4 linked regions of the Homo sapiens genome follow. The protein of the gene in region 4 interacts with the protein of the main gene of each other region in a pairwise test. Each region holds a gene or a part of one and is shown on either strand. Other genes may lie near its edges.

The links.
Region 1: the proteins of ZMYND12 (region 4) and TSSK3 interact in binary tests that used the Homo sapiens proteins (3 or more experiments, as listed by UniProt).
Region 2: the proteins of ZMYND12 (region 4) and NUDT22 interact in binary tests that used the Homo sapiens proteins (3 or more experiments, as listed by UniProt).
Region 3: the proteins of ZMYND12 (region 4) and ARHGAP8 interact in binary tests that used the Homo sapiens proteins (3 or more experiments, as listed by UniProt).

Annotation. Positions count from the first base shown.
Region 1 is NC_000001.11:32,358,442-32,364,835, reverse strand, and holds TSSK3 (testis-specific serine/threonine-protein kinase 3), read right to left. Parts: upstream 2,298-6,394; 5' UTR 2,135-2,297; coding exon 1,990-2,134; intron 1,242-1,989; coding exon 580-1,241; 3' UTR 524-579; downstream 1-523. Other genes in the region: protein FAM229A, read left to right, coding at 2,745-2,878, 2,960-3,106, 3,301-3,403. UniProt on the Homo sapiens protein: Serine/threonine protein kinase required for spermatid development and male fertility.
Region 2 is NC_000011.10:64,221,790-64,229,279, reverse strand, and holds the start of NUDT22 (uridine diphosphate glucose pyrophosphatase NUDT22), read right to left. Parts: upstream 3,007-7,490; 5' UTR 2,856-3,006; coding exon of another isoform or gene 2,853-2,855; exon of another isoform or gene 2,646-2,852; coding exon of another isoform or gene 2,628-2,645; coding exon 2,148-2,627; intron 1,880-2,147; coding exon of another isoform or gene 1,787-1,879; intron 1,713-1,786; coding exon 1,614-1,712; intron 135-1,613; exon of another isoform or gene 34-134; coding exon 1-33. Other genes in the region: TRPT1 (tRNA 2'-phosphotransferase 1), read left to right, coding at 3,420-3,494, 3,700-3,781, 4,310-4,485, 4,563-4,737, 4,939-4,995, 5,070-5,180, 5,313-5,404; FERMT3 (fermitin family homolog 3 long isoform), read right to left, coding at 5,788-5,967, 6,091-6,232. UniProt on the Homo sapiens protein: Hydrolyzes UDP-glucose to glucose 1-phosphate and UMP and UDP-galactose to galactose 1-phosphate and UMP. Preferred substrate is UDP-glucose.
Region 3 is NC_000022.11:44,748,684-44,755,596, forward strand, and holds the start of ARHGAP8 (rho GTPase-activating protein 8), read left to right. Parts: upstream 1-3,891; 5' UTR 3,892-3,944; intron 3,945-6,913.
Region 4 is NC_000001.11:42,446,012-42,453,036, forward strand, and holds part of ZMYND12 (zinc finger MYND domain-containing protein 12), read right to left. Parts: intron 4,049-7,025; coding exon 3,907-4,048; intron 2,628-3,906; coding exon 2,456-2,627; intron 1-2,455. UniProt on the Homo sapiens protein: Required for sperm flagellum function and male fertility.

The sequences.
Region 1 (6,394 bases), about 10 Mb from region 4:
CTTCAGTTGCTCTTGGTCATTTTTATCCTCTCTTCCCCCTGTTTGTATATGATTCTTGGGTCTATTTTAATTAACTTTAGTATGAAAATCACTTGTCATGCCAGGCGCAGTGGCTCATGCCTGTAATCCCAACATTTTGGGAGGCCAAGGTGGGTGGATCACTAAGGTCAGGAGTTCCAGACCAGCCTGGCCAACATGGTGAAACCCCATCTCTACTAAAAATACAGAAATAGCCAGGCGTGGTGGGAGGTGCCTGTAATCCCAGCTACTGGGGAGGCTGAGGCAGGAGAATCGCTTGAACCTGGGAAGCAGAGTTGCAGTGAACTGGAATCGTGCCACTGCATTCCAGCCTGGGCGACAGAGCAAGACTCTTAAAAAAAAAAAAGGAAGTCTGAATGAGGCCCTTTGATTCCATGAAGATCTCTAAAAGGAAAGAGTAGTAGTAAGGCTGGGGTAGATGTAGGTAAGTTTTAGGATAAGTAAACTTAAAGCGTAAAATATATATCACCATTTTAGAAGCGGGTTTTTGGGTTTGCTTTCTCCCCCTACTTTATTGGAGAGCACTTGCCATTGCTTTTATCAAGTGCTTGCTAGCCATGGATGCCAACTAACTTCTTCAATTGAAGGCCGGAGGATCATATCGGGTTCCAGGAGCCTCTTGAGCAGGTCCTGGCAATCGGCCGAGATGCTCAGATGAGTGGGGAAGGACACCCCCTTCTGCTGCTGCCACAGCATCTTGGGGATGTCTGTGTCGTCAAAAGGTAGGCTGGCACAGAGCATGACATACAGGACCACACCCATGCTCCAGACATCACCTTTTTTGCTATCGTGGGGAATGCCCTGCAGCACCTCGGGGGCAGCATAGGCTGTACTGCCGCAGAAGGTCTGGCTCAGCTCCCGGTGTGACTTGGGCAACACCTTGGCAAAGCCAAAGTCAGTCAGCTTCAGGTTGAAGCCCTGCAACAAGGCGTTCTCACATTTGAGGTCCCGGTGGGCCACACCACAGCCATGGCAGTAGCGGATGGCCTCAACCATCTGACGGAAGAGGGCCTTGGCCCGGCTTTCAGGCAGTGGCCCCCCATTCAGCACGCAGTCAAAGACATCCCCTCCCTCAGCGAGCTCCATCACCAGGCAGATTTTCCCGTCGGCAGACTCCAGCATCTCATACACCTGGATGATGTTCTTGTGGTCCAGGGTACGGACGATTTGGAGCTCCCGAGGGAGGAATCTCTGGATAAACTCTGAGGAAGTAAGGGGAGGAGAGATGGGCTGGCAGATCAGAAAGGCCCACCTCCTCACACCTGTCTCCTGCCTTCCAACTTCTGCCCACCTTGTCTGGGTCTTATTTCTTGGCTTTCTTAATGGTCTTAAGTGTGTCTAGCTGCTTGGACATTGCAAAGAATGTTCACTTCTATTATTTTTGTCGTTAGTATATCATTCAAAAGAAGCACTCCCCACCAGCCTTGTGGACTGTTGTGAGCAGTCTGTGAGACTGGATATCAAGGTGCTTTAGGGACTTTTAGACAAAGCCACAGAATCACAAATTATAAGGCCTGATTTGTCCACAGGGTGGTGAGCCAGCTCCTCCCGCCACTGTCCCCTGACCCCACAATTCTTTCCATGAGCCCTGTCTTCCTTTTTCCCATCTCCACGGGCCTTGGCACCAGCCCCTGTTCTCTACCAGCCCTGGTTGTGGCCTCTGCCAGTCTCTGTTCCCCTGCCGGAAAGGAAAGCCTGGCTCAGGTTTTGCCTCTGAGGATCCTTCACCTCATGCCACTTTCATCTTGCATTCTGGGGGGGTGTAATGTTCCTGGACTCCCAGAACCCCTCTGTTCCCCACTGACCCACTCCAGAGCTGCCATCGGGCTTGCTTGGTTCCAGGCCAGCGGGAGCAGGGAATGATCGAATGATCGTTCTAACAAACAGGAGGAAGCACCCACCCACCTCAGCCAGTCCTCCCTCCTTCCCTCCAAAGGGGCCCCGGCTCACCTTCTGGCCCTCCCATCTTGTCTATAACTTTAATTGCCACTTTTCTTTGGTGTTTTTTGGAAAATGCTTCTTTGACTTTTGAGTAGGTCCCTTCCCCAATGGTCTTGCCCAGCTGGTACCCATTGGAGAGCAGAAAGTCCTCCATGCTGTCTAGCGCCGCCTTCCTATCACCCTCTCAGCTCATGCTGCCTCTGAGAGGCAGCTCTACTCCACCATCGCCCTTGGCCTGCTCCTTTTCTCCCCAAGGACTTCATCCGCAGCCGCCCCCAGCGTTAGAACATTCTCTGTCTGGACACAGCGGCGGGTGGTGGGGAGGGACAGGGCCAGACATTTTTAAACTCCGGTGCAATTGTGATGTAGATGCTGTGTGACCCTTGGCCAAAATGGGCAGTGCCCCTACCTGCCCTCACTACCACCACCAAACTCAGCCCGGATTAAGTCACCGCCGAGCCCGCCCCCGTGCCAGGCATTGAGTTGTAGTCCCGCCTGGGAGGGCGCTCCGCCGCGTCTGTGTGGACCGGGAATGCGCGGCTCCTCGGCGTGGACGCCGCCTCGCGGCGGGTTGCCCTGGCCTGCTGCGCCCCCCTCGGGTGTCCGGGGTCTGCGCGACCCCGTCTCCAGGCGCCATGGCCAGAGGCCTCCAGTCCCCGATTCTGGCCCGCGCTGAGTGCCAGGGGCGGCAGGGGGCACCGTTGGGGGTTCTCCAGTGGGAGGAACGTGCTCTGTGAGGTCAGCGCGCCGCGGCCCGGGTCACAATGCTGCCCTCCTCGACGCCCGGGCCCGGGCACGCCACAGAGACCTGCCCGGCTCCGCCTGGACCGGAGCGTTCTCCCGCGGCCAGGGCTCCGGCAGCTGCTTCTAGCCTGGGACCGGTCTCAACCGCCGGGAGGTGAGCGACGGCCCAGGGGGCGGGCGCGAGGCGGCGGCGCCCGGCGACCCGGGAGAGGCCTGACCGCCACTCCCCGCGCAGAGCGCCCCGGGGCTTGGACATGAGCGCCCAGGAGCCCCCGCAGGGTCGGAGATTCCCCATTGAGGCCGGAGACTCCCGTGGCCTTGCCGCCGCCCCCGAGTCCCAGGACAGCCCGGAGGCGGTAGCGACGGAGCACAACCCGGTCAGGTAAGGCCCGCGCCCCACCCCCGCCTCCGCCCGTCCCGCGGCCCCGCCCTCCGTCCCACTTGGCGCCCCCAGCAGTCAGGACCCCGCATCCACGTCCGGACCCCCGGGGACCCCAGGTGCACTCCCTGGGTGCGCCCCACAGGATGGGCCAAGCCCCTGCCTCAGCGGCCCCTGTCGCGCGTCAATTTCCCCAGGCCGCTTCGTCGCTGCCCTGGATGCCACTGCCTGACGCTGCTGCACGTGCCCATCGACGTCTACCTCGCCATGGGCGGGAGCCCCCGGGCCCGCGCCACGTGAGTGCGCCTGCTCCCTGCGGCTCCGCGGGAGCTGGGCGGGAACGAGGCCCCCAGCGGGCCACCACGCTGAGGTCGCATGCGCCGAGCACGAGACAATGATGCACATTTTAAAATAAAAGAATGATGCACATTTTAATAAAGCACAGCACAAACTGTTCTTTCCACTCCGGGCTGGCAGTGTATGTCTATCCGTCGGGCCCACCAGCTGCTCTGCCCAGTCCAATAACACTTTCCCTTCCGCAGCCTCCTCGTTTGGACCCAGCCTTAGGGGCCCGCCCTTCCGCCTTTCAACCTACGCCACTTCACTCCTCTCGTATCTTGCTGGTCCTGACCCCTCCTGGGCAGCCTTTCCCTTGGGCCCTGCCCTGGTCCATCTCTCTAACCCTCTGGTGATTCTCCGGTGAAATTCACATCACTGTGCTGGACCCTGGCAACCCACAGAAGCGGGGAACAGGAGGAAGAGGTGGACCGACAAGTAACATAGAATACAGCCATAGGCCACCCACACCAGGCTATCTATCTATCTTATCTATCTATCATCTATCTATCTATCTATCTATCTATCTATCTATCTATCTATCTATCTATGAGATGGAGTCTCGCTCTGTTTCCCAGGCTGGACTGCAGTGGCATGATCTCTGTTCACTGCAACCTCTGCCTCCCAGGTTCAAACAATTCTCCTGCCTCAGCCTCCCAAGTAGCTGGGACTACAGGCACCCGACCAGACCCATTTTAATCCTCTCGAGCGAGAAGTTCTGCGACAAAGTTCTGCGACTTGCTCTTTGTGGCCCTAGGTGCCTGGGACCTTCCTTATTGGAAGGGTTTGGAGCTGCCCCAGTCCATCCTGAGCCTTGGTTTCTCCCAGGACTGAAGTGATCATAAAAAGATTGGGGAAGAGGCCATTTGAAAAATGGTGGCTTGCCAGGCGCGGTGGCTCACGCCTGTAATCCCAGCACTTTGGGAGACCGAGGCAGGTGGATCACAAGGTCAGGAGTTCGAGACCAGCCTGGCCAACATGGCGAAACCCCGTCTCTACTAAAAATACAAAAATTAGCTGGGTGTGGTGGTACGCACCTGTAATCCCAGCCACTCGGGAGGCTGAGGCAGGAGAATTCCTTGAACCCAGGAGGCAGAGGTTGCAGTGAGCTGAGATCATGCCACTGCACTCCAGCCTGGGCAACAGAGCAAGACTCTATCCAAAAAAAAAAAAAAAAGAGAGAGAAAGAAAGACGTTGGTTTAACTTCCTATTTTACAGATGAGTGAACTGAGCCTTTGAGACTTACCCAAGGTCCCCCAATGAGAGTCTAGCACACTCCTCAGCATCCTGAGACCACATGACCTAAGATCTGCCCTCGGAGGGGCCCATGACAGGAAGCCTGCCTGGAGGTGCTAGTATTTAAGCTAAACAACTATTTCCTACTTTCCAATTTGGCTTTAATGAGCCCGTATATTCTACTTTCCAATTTTGTTACGGGGGGAGTGTAACCTAAAGGTCAGGTTCAGTCTCCTGTCCCCTGAGATCTAAGGACAATTGATTCAACACCCTCCTCTAATCCTCATAGGGTAGAGAAGTCCAAGCTTTCCCTAGAGCACCTTAAAATTCCACGTCACCCAAAAGGGATACCCTTCTCAGTTTCCACATAAAATGCTCTCCCAGGCAGTCCCCATGTAGGAGGCTTACTAAAAGGGCCTATTTCCTCACTGGTTTAAAAAAAAAAGGCATCAGCTGGTCTCTTTGGACTCTGCCAGCCCCCAAATAGTGAATCCTTCTCATTCTTCCTTTTTTTCCATCTCTCCCACTTCCTTCTCCTCTCTTCTCAACCCTCCTTTCCTTAAAAAAAAAAAAAAAATAGGCCAGGCATGGTGGCTCAGGCCTGTAATCCCAGCACTTTGGGAGGCTGAGGCAGGAGGATCACTTGAGCCCAGGAGTTCAAGACCAGCATGGAAAACAGCAAGATCCCATCTCTAAAAACAAAACAAAACAAAAAAACCAGGTATGGTGGCGTGTGCTTGTAGTCCTAGCTACCGGGGAGCCTGAGGCAGGAAGATTGCTTGAGCCCAGGAGTTTGACGCTGCAATGAGCCAAGGTCACACCACTGCACTCCAGCCTGAGCAACAGAGTGAGATCCTGTCTCTAAAAAAAATTAGGCTGGGCATGATGGATCACGCCTATAATCCCAGCACTTTGGGAGGCCGAGGCAGGTGGATCATGAGGTCAGGAGATGAAGACCATCCTGGCTAACATGGTGAAACCCCGTCTCTACTAAAAATACAAAAAAATTAGCCAGGCGTGGTGGCGGGAACCTGTAGTCCCAGCTACTCGGGAGGCTGAGGCAGGAGAATGGTGTGAACCCAGGAGGTGGAGCTTGCAGTGAGCTGAGATCGCACCACTGCACTCCAGCCTAGGTGACAGAGTGAGACTCCATCTCAAAAAAAAAAAAAAAATTTAGAAACCAGTTACTGCCACATCCCACGTACCTGATTTGTGAGGGATACAAAGATTCTAGACGCAGTCCTTGCCAATGGGGCTAGTTAGCTCTAGAATGTCCATGAGCAAGAGAAAGGGCATTCCCTTTGGGGAGGAAGCATTGTGGGTAAAGGCCTGGAGGCAGGAAAGTGAAGGACAATTTCAAGAAACTCAGTTCATCAATTTTCATCAACACCTTCCTGGGCCATGCCTGGTACTGAGAACCCAGCCCTGAATCTGACATCATTTTCCCTTTCAGAGCATAGAATGCAGGGGATCCAGGAATGGGTTAACAGAAGAGAAGCTGGATCAAGGAGACCTTTGCGTACCAGGTGAAGGAGTTTGAACTTTGTTCTGCAGGCAGGCAGAGCACGACAGGCTCCTACCTGGGTCACTTCATTCTCCTATTTCTCTTCTCTTCCATCCTGTTCTGTTTCTTCTTACTCCTTTCCACTGGAAGAGCCACTGGCCGAAACTAGTGCTGAGTTCAAGTCCTAACTCTGCTGTTTCTCTAACTGTGCAGT
Region 2 (7,490 bases), on a different chromosome or scaffold from region 4:
GGGCTGGCTCAGGGTGAGCAGCGGCAGGTTCACCTGCGGTGGAGGGTGGGGTGGGGGGAGGTCCCACCTATCAATGCCACTGCCCACATCCCTGCCCGTCTCAATGAAAAACCGCCTGTTACCTGTGTACAGCATTTTATAGCTTGTAGATCAAGGACCCAGCATTACAGAATGTCAGATGATGGGCATGTTTGTTTTACAGGTACACCAAAACCAGAGAGATTGAACACGTTGCCCAAGGTCACCCAAGAGAAGTCAATTTAGTGACTGGGACTCCCACTTACTCCTTTTTCTTTTTTTCTTTTTTTGAGATGGAGTCTCGCTCTGTCGCCCAGGCTGGAGTACAGTGGCACGATCTCAGCTCACTGCAACCTCTGCCTCCCAGGTTAAAGTGATTCTCCTGCCTCAGCCTCCTGAGTAGCTGGGATTACAGGTGCACGCCACAACGCCTGGCTAATTTTTTGTATTTTTAGTAGAGATGGGGTTTCTCCATGTTGGCCAGGCTGGTCTCGAACTCCTGACCTCAGGTGATCCGCTGGCCTTGGCCTCCCAAAGTGCTGGGATTACAGGTGTGAGCCACCACACCCTGCCACACTTACTCCTTTTTCTTTTTTTTGAGACGGAGTCTCGCTTTGTCGCCCAGGCTGAAGTGCAGTGGCGCGATTTCGGCTCACTGCAACCTCCGCCTCCCGGGTTCACGCCATTCTCCTGCCTCAGCCTCCTGAGTAGCTGGGACTACAGGTGCCCGCCACCACGCCCGGCTAACTTTTGGTATTTTTAGTAAAGTCAGGGTTTCACCGTGTTAGCCAGGATGGTCTTGATCTCCTGACCTTGTGATCTGCCCACCTCAGCCTCCCAAAGTGCTGGGATTACAGGCATGAGCCACGGCGCCCGGCCACTTACTCCTTTTTCAACAGACTTGGGGAGTAGGCAAGATATTTATCATTGTTTCCATTGAAAAGAAGAATCCTTGGCGGGGCAAGGCATGAGAATCACTTGAACCCAGGAGGCGAAGGTTGCAGTGAGCCGATATGCCACCACTGCACTAGCCTGGGCAACAGAGCAAGACTCTGTCTCAAAAAGAAAAAAAAAAAAAAGAAGAAGAATCCGGCCTGGTGCAGTGGCTCACACCTGTAATCCCAGCACTTTTGGAGGCTGAGGCAGGCAGATCACGAGGTCAGGAGATCAAGACCATCCTGGCTAACAAGGTGAAACCCCATCTCTACTAAAAATACAAAAAAAATTAGCCAGGCATGGTGGCGGATGCCTGTAGTCCCAGCTACTCAGGAGGCTGAGGTAGGAGAATGGCGTGAACCCGGGAGGTGGAGCTTGCAGTGAGCAGAGATCGTGCCACTGCATTCCAGCCTGGGCAACAGAGCGAGACTCTGTCTAAAAAAAAAAAAAGAAAGAAAAAAGAAAAGAAGAAGAATCCAAGGCAGAGGGTACTGAGGGCTAGAATTCCACTCCAAGTATGTATAGCTGCAAAGCCAACTTCTTCCCTCATTGCTGGCCAGATGCCTGCAGGCCTCCTGCCAGCCCAGACCTGTAGAATTCTGGCAAGTCCTACCCCCTCCCTTCATGTCTACCACCCTGTCCAGGTCAACCTCACTCACCTCATCACAGATCTCCTGAAGGACACTGGAAAAGAGTTCATGTACCACCAGCTGCCCAGCGAGGTCCTGGTGCTGGGGGCTGCCACCAGGGCACAGGGCCTGTGAGAGGTCAGGCTCAGCCCCTGCTCCCCACCTCTTCCCCCTGCCCCATCTCAGGACCAGCAAGCCTATACCTGCTGGCCTTGAGGGTCTGATGTGGCACAGTGTAAGAGAGTTAGTGATCCTGAGTCTGGTGTCCTTTCCCTGACAGACAACCAGAGGTCCAGCTTCAAAGGAGATACACAGGGGGCAGGGGTGGAGTAGGGCATCTTCTTCCTGTGCCCAATCTTTCCTCCCGTGTTTTCTAGTTTCTCACAGGACTGGGGCAGGGGTCAGTGGGGAGGCAGGTGGACTGCCCTGAGCAAACTTCCAGAGAAATACCAGGCCAATTTTCCCTTTAAGGAATGAGGAAACCAAAGCTGGGAGGATTGGGAGGGTGGAGAGCTGCAGCTCCCTTGAGCTGTCTGGGTCTTTGTGCCCAGCCTGGAATCTCACCTGAGGCTCAGGGTGCCCACCAGGTACGTCCACCAGCCCAGGGGCCTCAGCCACCTGCCGGGAGCGGCGCAGGAAGACAAGGAAGTCATCGGCTGTGGCTAGTGCAGCGCCCACCCCCAGTGGGTCCGCCAGATAGGCCTGCGTGTCACCCCAGTCGGTGGCACCCTGCTGTCGCAGCCAGGCAGCTGAGCTGGACCAGTTGGTGCCCAGGAAGTCTCGGTAGGAAGTAAGGCCCAGGCGCAGGAGCAGCTGTGGCCCCCGAGAGCCAATAGGCGCCAGGGTGGCTGAGTGCAGGCGGAACTTGGGGGCGTCGAAGAGCCAGGGTTGGGCCTTTAGCCGGGTCTCCCAGATGGCAGTGATGGCCTCGTCCCCACCTGGCAGTGGGCGACGGTCATGGGCGGGGCTCAGCTCGGCCTGTATCTGCTCCTGGGGCAGGCCCCCGCCAGGGCACTGCAGCAGCAAGGTCACCTCAGGATCCATGGTCTGAACGGGGCAGCTCTGGGGGAGGATACGGCCAGGCCTGTCATCCAGGGGGGCCACTACCACTCCTGGGCTGCGCAGCTAGCCCCCTCTGTCGCAGACCTCCTGAGGGTATCCGCAGCGCTTCTCCACCCCCCTGACCACTCCTTGGGCAGTAAAACGTGCCATCTTCCCCGCAGGAGCCCCGAGTCCCGCAGGGTATCCAGGACGCCCGGGCATCCCTACCATCCAGAGGTCTTGGGTTCAGGCGCCCCAAATGCCCATGTCCCCCAAACCCAGGGGTCTGCCTCCGACCCGGGGCGCGCGGGGACCCCTTTCCAGGGCCCGGAAGCTCCAGCCTCCAGCGGGCGCTCACCAGCCGCCGGGTCCCTCAGGCTCCGCCCCTTCCCCGAAGCGGAAGTGCCCGCCCCCTTTCCACGCGGCTTTTCATTGGCGGGTCCGCCGCGGTCGAGGATCCTGGAGGTTTGTCCCCGCCGCCCCGACGCTTCCGCCCGGTCCGTCGGCACGTCGGCCCTGCCTCCCGGACCACCCTGCGGGGCGCACCAGCGATCTGGGGTGCGGGGCTCGGCCTCCCTGCGCTCCTGGCTGACCGTGTGACCTTGGGCAAGTCTGGCCTGCTGGGCCTTAGTTTCCCTCTCTGCAGCAGGGACTTGGGGGTGGTGAACTTAATGAGCCGTATACTCCCACCCAGCGCTCACTTCCTGAGGCTTTGTGACTTTCTGGGAGGGATGGGGACGTGGAAGGGGCCTTAAAGCAGTCCCCCCTCGTCACTGCCCCCCACAGGTCTTAACCATGAACTTCTCTGGAGGAGGGAGGCAGGAAGCAGCAGGGTCCAGGGGTAGAAGGGCTCCCAGACCCCGAGAACAGGTGCGCGCCTCCTCCCCACCCCCTCCCACCAGTCCAGGCTCCCTGGGAGTTGCTGGGGGGCGGAGCTGAAGGGTCCTACTATTCCTGGAGACCACTGGCACTCCTTTCTCTCTGGGCTCTCTCTGCAGTGGGTCATTGAGGGTTCAGGATGGGCAGTAGGGCAGGGTCACCATGGAGACTAGGGGCCACCGCTGGGTTCTTTCAGGACCGAGACGTGCAGCTGTCCAAGGCTCTGTCCTATGCCCTGCGCCATGGGGCCTTGAAGCTGGGGCTTCCCATGGGAGCTGGTAAGTAGGGGCCTTGGAGGCTGGGGCTTGAGCCCAGAGAGAAACGTGAGCCTGTCTGCGACTCCTCCCTGATGGCTGCCTCCACCGCTCCCTGAGGAAGGCACAGAGTGCACTTCCTCCCCATGCACAGAGGAGAGCAAGGCCTAGAGCCCCTGTCATGTCCACAGCAGACTGAGGAGAGTTCTTGTCTGGGCCAGGCCTGGTGACCGCCCCCTCCAGCCAAGCAGCCAGATCAGCACTTACCCCGAGGGCGAGCCCTGGAGGATACGGTGCAGCTGGTGGTGTGAGTGTGCACTCCGGGCCAGCGCTATGCTGGGCACTCACCTCCCTGCCCCTCCGTGAGGCAGATCCTCTTTTTATGTAAGTTGAAAAAACTGCGGCCCAGAAAGGGGAGACTTTCTAAAGGTCCCACAGAGGATGCCCAAGCGATCTCCAAGCCCAGACTTTGTTTCGGTTGCCTGTGGCTCCCTGTTAACCCTGGCCCAGTCCAGAGCAAGGTTAGCTCCTGAGCACCCTGCCTGCCCACAGATGGCTTCGTGCCCCTGGGCACCCTCCTGCAGTTGCCCCAGTTCCGCGGCTTCTCTGCTGAAGATGTGCAGCGCGTGGTGGACACCAATAGGAAGCAGCGGTTCGCCCTGCAGCTGGGGGATCCCAGCACTGGCCTTCTCATCCGGGCCAACCAGGGCCATTCCCTGCAGGTCGGGGTGAGGGGACAAGTGCGAGACGAGATGGGAGGGACCCCTGCCTGCGAAGGGGGTCTCACTGCTACCCGTTCAACCAGGTACCTAAGTTGGAGCTGATGCCCCTGGAGACACCGCAGGCCCTGCCCCCGATGCTAGTCCATGGTACATTCTGGAAGCACTGGCCATCCATCCTACTCAAAGGCCTGTCCTGCCAGGGAAGGACGCACATTCACCTGGCCCCAGGACTGCCTGGAGACCCCGGTATCATCAGTGGTCAGTGCCCTCCCCTCCACCTAGCTACTCCCACCCACTCTGTCCTCCCAGGTCCCCTTCAAAGGTTACAACACTTGTCTGGGGCCACCCCATGTCCGGCATGGAGCAGCACCCCTGCATCCCCCAGCCCAGGACCCCAGTCTGCCTAGGTTGCTGACTGCACTCCAGGTGCCCAGGCCTCAGCTCCAGCTGTCTCTGCAGGCATGCGGTCCCATTGTGAAATAGCTGTGTTCATCGATGGACCCCTGGCTCTGGCAGGTGAGTCTGGACAAAGCAGGAGCTGCCCTTGCCTTCGGGGAGGGCATGAGTCACATCTCTGGCTCTGTCAGCAGATGGAATACCCTTCTTCCGCTCTGCCAATGGGGTGATTCTGACTCCAGGGAATACTGATGGCTTCCTCCTTCCCAAGTACTTCAAGGAGGCCCTGCAGCTACGCCCTACCCGTGAGAACCACCACCCCAGCCCCTATTCCTTGTTCCTGAAAGCTGTGCCCTTCTGCCCTCACCTCTCTCCTAGCTTCCAACCCTAGACTGACTTAGGTGTCCCTTTCTCTAACCAACTCTTGTCTTTATCAGGAAAGCCCCTTTCCTTGGCTGGTGATGAAGAGACAGAGTGTCAGAGTAGCCCCAAGCACAGCTCCAGAGAAAGGAGGAGGATCCAACAATAAAATATTAATTTATAAAAAAGAAATTTTAAAAAGTAACAAGAAAGAACTCGTTTGAAACCATGTTTCATCATCCTGTAGCTACATCTGGTCTTCCTTGTGTGCTGGGGGACTGCAGATAGGTCAGGGGTATCAGCCTCAGCCACTCAGACAAGGAAAGGGGGCACCACATGAGCTCAGGGACCCCCACCCCCATCCCTGGCCTGGGTGATGGTACAGCGTCTGGCCCTGCCAGGTCCTTGGCCTGCACAAAGTCAGTGACAGCAGGTGAAATGCCCAGCTGGGTGCCTGCCTGGAGCGGGTGTGGGGCAGTGAGCCCCTGTGGGTGTGGGCTTGGGAGTGGCTGTGACAGGGTGGTGAGCAGGGCAGGGGCAATCAGACAGCCCTCAGAAGGCCTCATGGCCCCCGGTGAGCTGCAGGAAGAGGTCTTCATCCAGCTCCTCCCCACGGGCCCGCTCCCGCGTCGACAGGAAAATGTAGCCCCCGATATACTCGTGTACAATTCGGCAGCTGGCAGACACGCAGCTGAAGGCCACATTGATGTGTTCATCAAACTCGATGGCCACCTGAAGGGCAGACAGAGGGGCAAATGGTGGGTGGGATAAGGGAGCAGCCCCTGCCCCACCCTGGCTGGATCCAGCTCCGGCCTGCACCTGTCCCCCATCCATATACCCTGGGTCTGGGCCCACCTGCCGGATGTCCCAGTTGACATTCCACTGGCGCATGTTGCTGAAACGCCAGGTCTTGACCACGTCGCCCACGGCCAAGTCGATGCGGATCAGTCGGTTGTTGGCGATGCCCAGGATCTCGTCTTTCCTGCTGCCCTTGAACCTGGCCCCCAGGGAGAGAGAGTGAGCCAGGGCTCCACCCTGCATGGCCAGAGCCCGCCCAGACAATGTGGCGCCGTGCTGGAGAGCCAGCCCTTCCCGACTGCAGCTCACCAGCTGTGTAACCCTGAGCAAGCCATTTGGGTTCCCTGGGCCTCAAGTTCCTCATCTGGTAAATGGGGGTTAATTGATAAAATCCCCACAACAGCATTTAGCAGCATCGGGCAAACAGGCCAAGCCTTTAAATGGTAACTTTTTTTGGTTTTTGTTACCATCCTCATCAACTGCTGTCTCCCTCCCTTCTTTGCAGTCTTGGGAAACAACTAATCAAAGGGGCCCACTCCCCATAACAGCATCCACCGCTAGCCCTGTCTTGCGGACCGGCGAACCCAGGCCCAGACAGTGAACTGTCCACAGCAGAGCTGGAGCAAGAACTGGTTCTTCTGCTCTCCTGACCTGAAATCTCTTTTTTTTTTTTTTTTTTTTTTGAGACGGAGTGTCGCTTTGTTGCCAGGCTGGAGTACAGTGGCTCGATCTCGGCTCACTGCAACCTCCGCCTCCCGGGTTCAAGTGATTCTCCTGTCTCAGCCTCCCGAGTACATGGGATTACAGGTACGTGCCACCACTTGTGGCTGATTTTTGTGTTTTTAGTAGAGACGGGGTTTCACCATGTTGGTCAGGCTGGTCTCGAACTCCTGACCTCATGATCTGCCTGCCTTGGCCTCCCAAAGTGCTGGGATTACAGGCATGAGCCATCGCGCAGGCTCTTTTATTTATTTATTTATTTATTTATTTATTTATTTATTTATTTGAGACTGAGTCTCACTCGTTCGCACCCAGGCTGGAGTGCAGTGGCACAATCTCGGCTCACTGCAACCTCCACCTCCCGAGTTCAAGACATTCTCCTGCCTCAGCCTCCCGAGTAGCTGGGATTATAGGCGCCTGCCACCACACTCGGCTAATTTTTGTATTTTTAGTAGATACAGGGTTTCACCATGTTGGTCAGGCTGGTCTCACACTCCTGACCTCAAATAATCTGCCCGCCTCGGTCTCCCAAAGTGCAAGGATTACAGACGTGAACCACCGTGCCCCGCCTATTTGTTTTTTGTTTTGTTTTGTTTTTTGGAGGCAGAGTTTCGCTCTGTCACCCAGCGTGGAGTGCAGTGGCATGGTCTCAGTTCACTGCAACCTCTGCCTCCTGGGTTCAAGGGATTCTCCTGCCTCAGTCTCCTGAGTAGCTGGGACTACAGGTGCGTGCCACC
Region 3 (6,913 bases), on a different chromosome or scaffold from region 4:
AATAAGCCCCAGCCATCCAGGCAAAGTCCAGTTACTCTGACCTGAACTGCTCACTGTGGCCGGAGGAAGGCCTGGGGTGACTGGCACAGGCCCAGTTCCTTCCAGAACCTGAAATAATCATTGTGGCAGGGAGTCGTTGATCCAAAGGAAAAAACCGAGGCAAAATCAATACAAGTAAGAGTATATTTGGGGGCTGGGCGCGGTGGCTCAGACCTGTAATCCCAGCACTTTGGGAGGCCGAGGCAGGCAGATCACCTGAGGTCTGGAGTTCGAGACCGGCCTGACCAACATGGAGAAACCCCGTCTCTACCAAAAATACAAAATTAGCTGGGCGTGATGGCGCATGCCTGTAATCCCAGCTACTTGGGAGGCTGAGACAGGAGAATCACTTGGACCCAGGAGGCGGAGGTTGCAGTGAGCCGAGATCACGCCATTGCACTCCAGCCTGGGCAACAAGAGCGAAACTCTGTCTCAAAAAAAAAAAAAAAAAAAAAGAATATATTTGGGTCAAGTTTGAGGACTGCAACCTGGGAGTATACATTCAAGTTGCCCTGAATATTCACTGTGATTAGCAACAGTTACAAGTAGGTTTTTGAAGGAAAAGAAGAGGCAGTTCCTAAATTGTTTACCAAGAATTTACATTAAAATAACATAAATTGGCTAGGTGCAGTGACTCATGCCTGTAATCCCAGCACTTTGGGAGGCCAAGGTGGGTGGATCACCTGAGGTCAGGAGTTCAAGACCAGCCTGGACAACATGGTGAAACCCTGTCTCTACTAAAAATACAAAATTAGCCGAGCATGGTGGCGGGTGCCTGTAATCCCAGCTACTTGAGAGCCTGAGGCAGGATAATTGCTTGAACCCGGCAGGCAGAGGTTGCAGTGAGCCAAGATTGAGCCATTGCACTCCAGCCTGGGCAACAAGAGCGAAACTCTGTCTCAAAAAAAAACAAAAACAAACAAACAAAAAAAAAGTAAATTGTTCTAAAGAGCTTCTGCATAGCAAAAAGAAACTATCAACAGAGTAAACAGACAATCTATAGAATGAGAGAAAATATTTGCAAACTATGCAGCTGACAAAGGACTAATATACAGAAACAATAAGGAACTTAAATGAATCAACAAGAATAAAATAATCCTATTAAAAAGTGGGCAAGGGGCCAGGCACGGTGGCTCATGCCTGTAATCCTAGCGCTTTGGGAGGCCCAGGCAGGCAGATCCCTTGAGGTCAGAAGTTTGAGACCAGCCTGGCCAACATGGTAAACCCCATCTCTACTACAAGTACAAAAATTAGCTGAGTGTGGTACCGTGTGTCTGTAATCACAGCCACTTGGGAGGCTGAGGCAGGAGAATTGCTTGAACCCAGGGGAGGAGGTTGCAGTGAGCCGAGATGGCGCCACTGCACTCCAGCCTAGGTGACAGGGCAAGACTCTGTCTCAAAAAAAACAAAGAACAAAAGACATGAACAGACACTTCTCAAAAGAAGACATACACGCATACAAGCAGCCAACAAACATGAAAAAATGCCCAACATCACTAATCATCAGAGAAATGCAAATCAAAACCACGAGGAGAAACCATTTCACATCAGTCAATGGCTATTATTATTATTATTTTTTCTGCCAGCATCTTGATTTTGGACAGAATGGCTGTTATTAAAAAGTCAAAAAATAGGAGATATTGGCAAGGCTGCAAAGAATGGGGAATACTTATACACTGTTGGTGGGAATGTAAATTAGTTCAGCCACTGTGGAAAGCAGCTTGGAGATTTCTCAAAGAACTTAAAATAGAACTACCCTTCAACCCAGCAATCCCGTTAGTGGGTACACACCCAAAAGAAAAGAAATCTTTCTACCAAAAAGCCATCTGCACTCATATGTGCATAGCAGCACTATTCACTATAGGTTAGATATGGGGTCAACTGAGGTGCCCATCAATAGTGGATTGGATAAAGAAAATGTGGTACATTTCCAACATGGAATACTATGCAGTCATGAAAAAGAATGAAATCTTGTCCTTTGCAGCAACATAGATGCAGCTGGAAGCCATTATCCTAAGTGAATTCATGCAGAAACAGAAAACCAAATATGACATGTCTCACTTCTAAGGGGGAGCTAAACCTTGGGTACCCACAGATATAAAGATGGGAACAAAAGACATTGGGGACTCCAGAAGGGTGGGGGGAGTAGGGCAAGGGCTGAAAAACTTCCTATTGGGTACTGTGCTCACTACCTGGGTAAGGAGATCAACAGAAAACCAAACCTCAGTGTCACCCAATATATCCCCTAACAAACCTGCACATGTACCCCTTGAATCTAAAATAAAAATAAAAATAATAAGTTGTTGATTGGCTACACATTTTTCTCTGTATCACAAGTTGCAGGAACATGCAGATAATGGGTGAGGCAGTGAGTCAGGAACAAAATGCCTTTAAACCATGGCCCCCACGGCCGGGTGCGGTAGCTCATGCCTGTAATCCCAGCACTTTGGGAGGCCGAGGTGAGTGGATCACTTGAGGTCAGGAGTTCAAGACTAGCCTGGCAAACATGGTGAAACCCCGTCTCTACCAAAAATACAAAAAATTAGCTGGACATGGTGGCAGGCCCCTGTAATCCCAGCTACTTGGGAGGCTGAGGCAGGAGAATTGCCTGAACCCAGGAGGTGGAGGTTGCAGTGAGCTGAGATCGCGCCATTGCACTCTCAGCCTGGGTAACAAAGCAAGACTCTAAAAACAAAAACAAAAAACAAACAAACAAACAAAAAACTATGGCCCCCCAAGCACTGCAGGGGGACCTGGACTGAAGTCCTATACTACTGTTTCTCTGGGCCTGATATATTTTGTTGTATCTAAGCTGCTTTCCTCAGATACAAATCCTTCAACAAACCCTAGGGAAAATTTCCTCTCAAGTCCCTCCAATTCTCCCAGTTCTGCCACGCTTTGTACACCCCTAACGAAAGGGGCCAGGTGCAGTAGCTCAGGCACGTAATCCCAACACTTTGAGAGGCTGAGGAGGGTGGATCACTTGAGCCCAGGAGTTCCAGACCAGCCTGGACAACATGGCAAGACTCCTGTCTCTACAAAAACTACAAAAATTAGCTGGGTATGGTGGTGCACACCTGCGGTCCCAGCTACTCGGGAAGCTGAGGCCGGAGGATCGCCTGAATCCAGGAGGTAGAGGCTGCAGTGAACCAAGTTCAAGACACTGCACTCCAGCCTGAACAGAGCGAGACCCCTGTCTCAAAAAAGTAAAATTAAAAATGGGGCCCGGCGCAGTGGCTCACGCCTGTAATTTCAACACTTTGGGAGGTGGAGGCGGGAGGATCGTTTGAGGTTGGGAGTTCGAGACCAGCCTGGCCAACATGGTGAAACCCGGTCTCCACTAAAAATACAAAACTTAGCCGGGCTTGGCGGCGCACGTCTGTAATCCCATCTACTATGAAGGCTGAGGTGGGAGGATCGCTTGAACTCGGGAGGTTGAAGCTGCAGTAAGCCGAGATCGCGCCACTGCACTCCAGCCTGGGCGACAGCGCGAGACTCCGTCTCAAAATAAATAAATAAATACATACATACATAAAGTAAAATAATGAATAAATAAAATAAGAAATGGGGAAATGGATCAGCAAGAAAGTGCCCGCCCCAGGCATGGGTGCCGTGCGGGACGGGGACGCGGCCCAGCCGGGAATCGGGGTGCCCAGGGTGCGATGTGCGAGGGGCTCCTGAGCGCGTGTGCTCCGCCCGACCCCGCCCTGTCCCCCCGACACACAGGTGGACCCAGGGTCAGCTCGTGCACCTGGGAAATGGCTCCCGCCGGGTAGCAGGGGCGGAGGGGCGGGGCTGGGCGGAGGGGCGGGGGGGCGGGGCCTGCCCGGGAGCCACGTCCGGGGAGGGGCCAGGTGAGCGGCAGACCCGGCACGCAGGTGGGGGCCGGCGGGGTCCGTGGCCAGGTAAGGCGGGCGGCGGCGGGAGGGAGCGCGCAGGGAGGAGGCCGTGCTCGGGGTGGGGGGGTGCGCCGCGGGGGCTCCCAGGGCGTGTACGGGGACAAGGGGCCGCTGGCCGGGTAGGGACGCCCAGGCGGGCGCGACGCCACGTGCGGCCGGGGGGAGACCCTCCGGCCGGCGCGCAGCCTCCGGGTCCCCTGTGGGTTCTAGACTCCCTCTCCCTTCACCTCCTTTCTTTCCCGCCCCCCCACACTCCCCTCCTCTGCTTTTTCCCCTGTCCTGTTCCTTCTCACCCCGCACCGCCTTCCCCGCCCTCGCCTCTCTCAGCCTGCGTTTTGGTCTGGTCTGGCCGGACGGTGTCAGCTCAAATGTTCCTTTTTTGCTTCCGTCCTGGGGTCTCAGGTTAGGTCGGGTCAGCGCCTGGGGGAGGCACCTCCCCCGCCCCCACACACCCCAAACCTACAAGGTGGGTGAGGTCATTCCCGTTTCATAGATGAGAAAACGGAGGCCGGGGCAGGTGCTGCGCTGATTCAAACTCAGGGGGTGGGGGGCTGGCCGGTTCAACACACAGCGGTGGAACCCCCCGGGAGTTAAAAGCAGAAACTTTTTTTTTTTTTTTTGACACCGAGTCTTGCTCTGTCCCCAGGCTGGATTGCAGTGTTGCATCTCTGCTCACTGCAACCTCCGCCTCCTGGGTTCAAGCGATTCTTGTGCCTCAGCCTCCCGAGTAGCTGGGATTACAGGGACTGACACCATGCCAGCTAATTTTTTGTATTTTTAGTACAGACAGGGTTTCACCATGTTGTCCAGGCTGGTCTCGACCACCTGACCTCAGGTGATCCGTCTTCCTGGGCCTCCCAAAGTGCTGGGATTACAGTCGTGAGACACCGCGCCCGGCCTAAAAGCCCAAAGTTTAAACCAATCCGCTAGCAGCCTCGGAGGTCGTCAGGAAGGCAGGGAGGCCCTGCCTTTCACTTTCCCTCAATCCTGTGGGGGGTGGGGGGGCTCCTGAGAATCCCTCGGGCTCTGCCACACCCTGACTTGGAAATTTCTCCGCTGCCTTGGGAGGAGTGTGAAGGCCCCGGAGAAGGAACCGCAGAGTCCACCCGGGAAGGAGGGTGGGATTGTTTGGCGGGATGGGGACAGCACCTTGGCCACCGACTTCAGGGTTTTGTGACAGAGGCTGTGTAGATTCCAGAGAGCTCTGTGCCGTCCCTCGCTTGCCTGTGAAATGCAGTGTTGGCATTTGTCCAGCTGAGAACTCAATGCTTAAGACTCAGCCGTTTCAGAAGTCGATGTCCTTTGGTTGGCCTCTCTGTTGGCAGCTTTAGGATCATGTTTGTGGACTCCTCATTCGATTCACTGACTAACCATTCCCCAAACCAACGCCAGAGTTGGGGGTAGGGCGAAGAGGGACATGGGATGTGGGCCTGAGCCCAGCTGATTCTTGTGGACAGCCAGCTGCCTGGTCCCTGCCCTCAGGGGCCCAGAGTCTGGCTTCTGTGTAGAGAGAATCCAAGGGTTTGTGGGAGCTTAGGAAGGGCTTCCTGGAGGAGGTGGCCATTGAGCTGGAAGGTGGATGGGAGGTGGATGGGGAAGAGAATGGCACCTACTGGCTAGGGATACTTCGCTTGTGAGGTACGGGTGGAAAAGTCCATGGAGTGCCTGACGGGGTGGGCCAATTTACTTGGATAACATCATTGGGTCATTGAAACTTTGTGTGTGTGTGTGTGTGTGTGTGTGTGTGTGTGTGACGCAGTTTTCGCTCTTGTCGCCCAGGCTGGAGTGCAATGGCACGATCTCAGCTCACTGCAACCTCTGCCTCCTTGGTTCAAGTGCTTCTCGTGCCTCAGCATCCAGAGTAGCTAGGATTACAGGCGCCCACCACCACACCCAGCTAATTTTTGTATTTTTAGTAGAAGTGGGGTTTCACCATGTTAGGCAGGCTGGTCTCAAACTCCTGACCTCAGACGATTTGTCTGCCTTGGCCTTCCAAAGTGCTTGGAGTGCTGGGATTACAGGCATGAGCCACCACACCCGGCCGAGTCATTGAAACTTACTTGACTTAAACATGCCTGGGACATCATGCCATCTGCCTAACAAGCCAGTTCTAGGCTGAGCTATTCATGGGCACACTGTAAACGATGGAGTTAAAGGCGGCTTCGGTTAAAGAGACGAGAGCAAGGAACTCAGGTCCTGGAGGTGCCTGACAGTATGTTTCACCACATTAAAAAAAACCCATCCCATTCCCTGATTTTACCCTCATTTCACTGATAGGGAAACTGAGGCACAGGCAGCATGAGGGTGAGAAAGAGATGGAGAAGGAGTCAGCAGACCTGGTTTTTAGGCAGGTCACTCTCCTTCTGGGGCACTCAGCCTCCTCATCTGCAAAAGGAGCTATTGGCTGTCCTTCCCCACTGCGATGGTGGTCACCAAATGGCCATGAAACCCTCACTGCACACTTGGCTGCCTGACTCCTTGCTCACATCAGGAGGCACGGACTGTTACTGCCCCGTTCACAGATGAGGAAACAGACAAGGAAGGTTAAGGTCCCATGGCTAGTGATTAGAGAGCCAGGCTTGGAAGCCAGCGGTGCTGCAGCTACAGTGTTCCCCGTGTCCCCACCTTCCTCCCACACACACTGTGCTGAGCCACCTCCCTGGGCACTGAGGTGTGCCTCCCACATGGGAGCTGGTGTCTGGTGTAAGATGGAGCCATTCGGAGCCTGCCGGTGACTACCCTTCAAATCTATGTGAAATTAGCATGGGGAGAGAAAATAGACGTTTTCCATTTCTTTCCAAATTATTTAACTTTTACCCCTTGGTCCTTTAATTAAAACTGATGCTCAAGGAAGATGCATCACGTGTGTCCAGATGCTTCCCAGGCCTCCCTGGGGTGCATTTGAGGGGAGAGCCTCTGGGCCCTGCACTGTGGGACTTAGCTGCAGGAGAGCGCGCTGCTCCGGAGTCCTGCCC
Region 4 (7,025 bases):
TCAGACCTGGGCAGGGTGAGCAGGGCATTCCTGCAGGCAAACAGCCTGTTATGGGGAGTTGGAACCCACACAAGTGAGGAGGGATCCATGCAGCAGAGGCAGCCTGGAATGGGGAGTCAGGGCCCATGGAGCGGGAAGAGGTATCTATAAGGTGGAAAGGACGGAGTTAGAGAGCGGGGATTGATTCATACAGGGGAACTCATTAATATGTAAATAAACCAATGAAAGTGAAAGCTGTCAGCAAAGGGAGTTGCAATTAAGGAATGGAAGTAAATCAGATTGAACCCTATGGTGCTGTATTAGATCTGGATCAAACAGTATAGACTAGTGGTCATAGAGATATTGATGTAGATATATAGATACAGGCCAGACACGGTGGCTCATACCTGTAATCCCAGCACTTTGGGAAGCTGAAGCAGGTGGATCACTTGAGGACAGGAGTTCAAGATCACAAACATGGTGAAACCCCGTCTCTACTACAAATACAAAAATGAGCCAGGCGTGGTGGCACACACCTGTTGTCCCAGCTACTCGGGAGGCTGAGGCAGGAGAATTGCTTGAACCAGGGAGGTGGAGGCTGCAGTGAGCTCAGATTGCGCCACTGCACTCTAGCCTGGGTGACAGAGTGAGACTCGGTCTCAAAAAAAAAAAAAAGATATATAGATATAGAAATAAATACAGATGTAATGTGTGTATACGTACACCCATTATTATATTTACACTTACTCCCTAACTCCACTGAGAAGGCCTGGGAGCAGTAATACCCCAAAAGCATGAGTACATCTAGTGCACAGCTTTTGGCTTCTGATTTTCACTTTCCACTGAAAGAGATCAGGGCTCTTTAGAGGTATGTTCCAGAAAGCAGTCAAGTGAGCAAAGAACAAATGGGGTTGTATCTGGGAGATGCAGAAGCCAGCTTGAGTGGGGTTTGTCACTGGTCAAATCAGGGACAGTTTGAGGATCAAATTAACGATAGTAATGGATTTAAGCCCATTGAATAAAGATAAAATACTGATACAAATAACTAAATGAATACATTGAAAATTCGATGAGGAATGGGATATTTATATAGTTTCAAAGGACGTATCCATGAAATGAAAATTAAAGTTATTAATTACAGAAGGGTGAAAGAGTAACATTACAGGGAGGAAGACTGGCAGACGCCATCCTAATAAAGTAATTAAAATGAACATCATCAGTAATGAAAAAAATGAAAACATGCCAGTTTATAGGATGGGATGAGAACACAGCATCACCTCTGTACTGTTTTTGCCAAAAATCCATAACGTGAGTCCCATCATTAGGAAATATCAGACAAACTCAAATTGAGAAATGTTTTATACAATTGGCCTGTAACCTGTAAAAGTGTCAAGATCATAAAAGTCAAGAAAAGGTTGAGAAACTATTCCAGAGTTTTGTTGCCAACACATGGCAACAAAATGAAAAGTGTGACCCTGAACTGTATCCTTTTGCTATAAAGATGTTATTGGGAAAATTCGAGAAACTTGAATGGGGTCTTCTTAGATGACAGGGTCCCCTTGTGTGGTTCCCACAAAGACATTCTCCTTCATAACCACAATACAATATATCTCATTTACTAAGGGGACACTGAAGTATTCTAAGGATAGGGAATCAGGTGAACAACTTACTCTCAGAGAACTCAGGGGATAAAAGTTCTTTATATTGTACTTAATTTTAACAGTTTTACTTTTAAAAAAGTTTTACTTTTAAAAAAGTATTTTTTTAATGGTGGCTATTAAAACATATGAAGCATTTTTTTAAATGGTGGCCACCATGTAGGGTATCTGCTAAGTCTGCTCTATACTCTCAGAATTGCCTCTCCCATCTATAGGGGTGGGTTCCTGTATTTCTGAACTATGTGGCTCTGATCCCAGGGAATAAAGGTGGATTCCACACTCAAGCCATGTCAACAAAATTCTGTCTTCTACGAATTTGTATTTGGAAATCAGAAGCTAATTAGTTTCTACTGCCTACTTCAAACCTAGAAAACACGTAAACTGAAAAACTCCATCTGACATTTTGGGGTAGCTGTCTTCTACAGTGAGCATAGGGTAGACAAATCTGGTCTGCAGAGAGGGAAAATAGCAAAGCAGATAGATACCCAGAGAGAAGTAGATACAGGAGACAAGGCCCAAGAGAGAACGAAAGGCACTCCAATTCTAGTCCCTCATGAAGCCTCAGCTCCTGTAGGATACTACAGCACCCGCACAAAGTTCCTCCTTTTTGTGCAGGCCAGCTTGAGTGGATTTCTGCCAGTTGTAGACAAAAGTCTGTGACATCTCCTTCCCTACCTTGTGCTAAACTTTACAGCAACCCTGCTCCTTCTACAATAGGTCTCTTGGTGCCACTGTCAAGGGTGACTCTTTGATCATTGGTGTGACCCAAACATAACACCACTTAAGGGATCCAAGGATCTCAAGTCGGTTTCACTCACCAAGGCTGGCCTCGGCCAACAGCAGGTAAGCAGGCACAAGCTCTACGGAGCTCAGGCCATACAGCTTCACACGGAAGCGAAGGGACTGCAAAGCTGCTGGTACAGCATCTTCGTGTTTCCCTTCAAAGAGGTATTTCTGGGCTATGGTGTAGCAGAATTCAATCAAATACTTCTGTGGAAGAGAGAAACAGACTATCTGAGACAGTCTAAAGTTAAAGGCAAAGGTGGATGTAGATGGCCCTGGGGATAAGGCCAACACCTAATGACCCAGTTAAAGGCACATAGTGAGCCTGCCTGTATTAGAGTGGACGTGAAGCCCCACATAAGTGATATAAGAAAGCAAACTCTGGACTATGAGTTCCTTAAGGCCCAGGAACATGTGTATTTTCATCTTAGTTCAGCGCTTGGCATAGATGAATGCTCAATATAGAGTTATCAGATGAATAAATGAGTATTGTTTTTACAGTTCTAATAAAACTTTACTTTAGCAAAGCTAGCATGTCTCAGGACAATCTGAAACTTTCTGCCTTCCTAGTTGAGTTAATTTTGAGAGAAACATCTCATTTTCCCTTCCAGAATTATCCTGTTTAGCTAATATCACAAAAAACTTTAACTCTGCATTGTTCTAAGGCCACTATCAAAGTGTCATAACACTAAAATGGATGGATCTTATGTTTAGAGATTTATGGCTTATAATAAGGGGCTAATTTTTTAGAGTGATTGAGATGCTCAATACTCAATAATACTCAACACTATACATAATAATAGTGGCAGGTTTTGGTAACCTCCTTTATTTATTCAGTAGTATATCCATACATCATTCTTAACCCTCCTATTATGTGGCCAGACTCTTGGCATCTGTGGATGTTATGGGCTGAACTGTGTCCCCTGCCAAAATTCATGTGTTGAAGCCCTATCCTGCAGTCTGTCACATGACTATAATTGGAGCTAGGGCCTGTAGAGTGGTGATTAAGTTAGAATGAGGCCATTAGGGTGGGCCCTAACCTAATCTGACTTGTGTCTTTATAAAAAGAGGAAATTGGACACACAAAGAGATACCAGGCATGCTTGCACACAAAGGACCATGTGAAGACACTGTAGGAAGGCAGCCATCTGAAAGCCAGGAAGAGAGGCCTCAGAAGAAACCAAACCTGCTGACCCCTTGATCTTGGACTTCCCAGCCTCCAGAGCTGTGAGGAAATAAATGTATGCTGTTTGAGCCACCCAGTTTGTGATATTTGATTGTGACAGTGCTAGCAGACTAATACAGTAAGTATTTAGTAAATGTGGAAAACAACAGACTGGATGGTGTTGAGGACTTAAAAAGATATAAAACAAAGTCTCTGCCCTCCGTGAGGTTACAATTTAGTGATCCCAACACAGTTCGAGCCTTGTCTTGGGCAGCTTCACCGCACCTACGACTTAACCTTGGAAAGTGCCGTAGGCCCTACCTGCCGCTGCTGCAGCTGCTGCAGGCCATGCTGCCGTTCTTCCTCTGAATTGTAGAAGGGCATGGAAGTGCGCAGTGGAATCAAGAGCTGACATATTTTCTCATGGATGCTGTCCCAGTCAGCCTTCTGATGTACCACCCCACTGACAACGGAAACATAGACTTTATGATCTTTATATTTGGCATGACTTAAGATTCCATTAACCCTCCTACTGGCCTATCCCTAGACACCAGAAAAGTAAGCCAAATACAAACCAGGCAGGGAGCTCAAAGCCATTTCTGAGACTCAAATCTCTTTCCTTTCATGTGGTTATTTGATGATGTATAAACTGTGTTGGGATTGGAGAGTATGTTGTTTCTGCAGGCACACATTCACATTCTGAAGTCACACAGGGATGCTGGCATGCAATTGCTCATAGTGTTCTCTTATAATCTCTTTTATTTCTGCAAGGTTGGTAGTAATGTCCTCACTTTCATTTCTGATTTTAGTAATCTGAATCTTCTTTTCTAGGCCAGTCAACCTAGCTAAAGGTTTGTCAATTTTGTTGGTCTTTTCAAGGAGCCAACTTTTGGTCTCATCAGTTCTCTCTGTAGTTTCTTTATTCTCTGTTTTATCTCTGCTATAATCTTTAATTTTCCTTTCTTCTGCTAGCTTGTGTCTATACCCAACACAGGGCTGTGCATAAAGGAGTTTATAAATATGTTTTAGTTTGCTCTTCTTTTTCTAGTTTCTTAAGATGAAATGCTAGGTTACTGATTTGAGATCTTCTTTTCAATGTAATGTATATTAGTATAAATTCATATGAGTACTAAATTCATACAGTAACCTCTGAGTACTGCTTTGCCAGCATCTAAGTTTTAGTATGTTGTTTTTGTTTTCATTTATCTCAAAGCATTTTCTAATTTCCTTTGTAATTTCTTCTGTGACTCATTGGTTAAGAGTGTGTTATTTCTACATATTTGTAAATTTACCAAATTTCCTTGTTATTGACTACTAATTTCATTCCATGTAGGTGGAGAACATACTCTGTATGAAATCAATCTCTATAAATTTATTGAGATTTATTTTATGGTCTAATATATGTTCTATCCTGAATAATGTTCTATACGCACTAGAGAAGAATAGGCATTCTCATGTTATTGAATGGTGTTCTACAGATACCTGTTAGGTCTAGTTGGTTTATAGCGTGATTCAAGTCTTATATTTCCTTGCTGATCTGTCTAATTGTTCTATGCATTACTGAAAGTGGGATATTTGATCTTCTATCTAGTTGTTCTATTCATTACTGAGAGTGGGATACTGGATCTTTCATCTAGTTGTTCTGTTCATCACTGAAGGTAGGATATTGAAGTCTTCAACCATTATTATTAAATTGTCTATTTTTCTCCCCAGTTCTGTCTGTTTTTGCTGCATGTATTTTGAGGCTCTGTTGTTAGATGCATAGTCATGGGTTTTTGCATTTCTATTGCTTATTACACATTTTCACTTAAATGTAAGTTAACTGTTTGATTCCATTTATACATATTTCAAAACAGGTAACAATAATCTAGAGGAGGGATCAGAAAAGCTTTTCTGTAAAGGGTCAGATAAATATTTTAGGCTTGAGAGCTATAGGATCTCTGTTGCAACTACTCAACTCTGCTGTTGTAGCACAAAAGCAGCCACAGACAATATATAGCCATGTTCAAGCACCTTCTTGGACAATATTGCCACCTTCTTGGACAATAGAAATGCAATTAAAGTATATTCTTTACAAGTTGTGACTGCTACCAAAGAAATGACAGAAACCATTTAAAATGTTTTTGGGGAGGTAGAGAATTATTATAAACAGATCAATAAAAGCACTTAGCCAGGATATAGCTGAGTTCCACAGGGAATTTATCAAGTGGGGCTTGTAAGCAATGGAAATGTTAACTTAGATGCCTGAACTTTTGTTCCACTGAGAGCCACTAACATATCTTGCCTTTCTAAATAAAGTGAGCTTTATTTATATATTTGCGGGCTCCCTGCTTATTGATCTGTCCCACCTGTAACACCTAACACAGGGTCAGGGATAAAGTAGGAATGGATAAATGCTTTCAATCAGGGCTCACAATTAAGTAGCTTGTGAGCCACATGTTTTGTTTGGCTATTATCATGTTTTTTTTTAAGCTGAATTTGAATATCTTTAGGTAGGGCATTCATTCTACAATTCACCACTGATCCTATAGCTTCCTATTATTGAATACCACTTCACTGTTTGTTTTCTTAGTGATCTGCAATATTTTTTGCAATAATTTTTCCTTTTGTTTGACATATGAAGCGCAAATTTAAATGCCGTCACTGGCCAGGAGAAGAAAACGAATGGTGAAGTGGTATTCAAGAACAGGAAGCAATAGTATTTGTAGTGAATTACAGAATGTACGCCCTGACTAAAGACATTTAAATTCATGCAAACCTATGGTACTGAAGTCTCTTTTACTTGTCACCAATGTTTTAGTATGTACTTCCATAAAATTACCTTTTCTTAAAAATGTTCTACTGTCCTGTAATCCCAGCACTTTGGGAGGCCGAGGAGGGCGGATCACAAGGTCAGGAATTCGAGACCAGCCTGACCAATATGGTGAAACACCGTCTCTACTAAAAATACAAAAAAATTAGCCAGGCGTGGTGGCGCATCCCTGTAATCCCAGCTACTTGGGAGGCTGAGGCAAGAGAATTGCTTGAACCCGGGAGACAGAGGTTGCAGTGAGCCAAGATGGTGCCACTGCGCTCCAGCCTGGGTGACAGAGCAAGACTCCGTCTCAAAAAAATAATAAAAAAATAAAAGTTCTACTGTGTCTCTAAAGTAAATAAAAATGTGCTATTCTCTGAGAATGGTCATAATCCACTATAGAGCAATATGCACAAGATTACACACAATATATAAAATAAATGTATTCAGAGAAAAGAAGGAAATTCACCAAAATTTCAGGTTATTAATCCCTGGGTTGTGGGACTATGGCTTATTTTTCTTCTTGATTTTTTATATTTTCAGGTTTTCTGCAGTGAGCATGAATTGCAATTATAATCAGGAAAAAAATTCTTTTGCAGAAAAAAACTTTCACAAATTCAGACTGACTTTCTTGTTCCTTAAACTT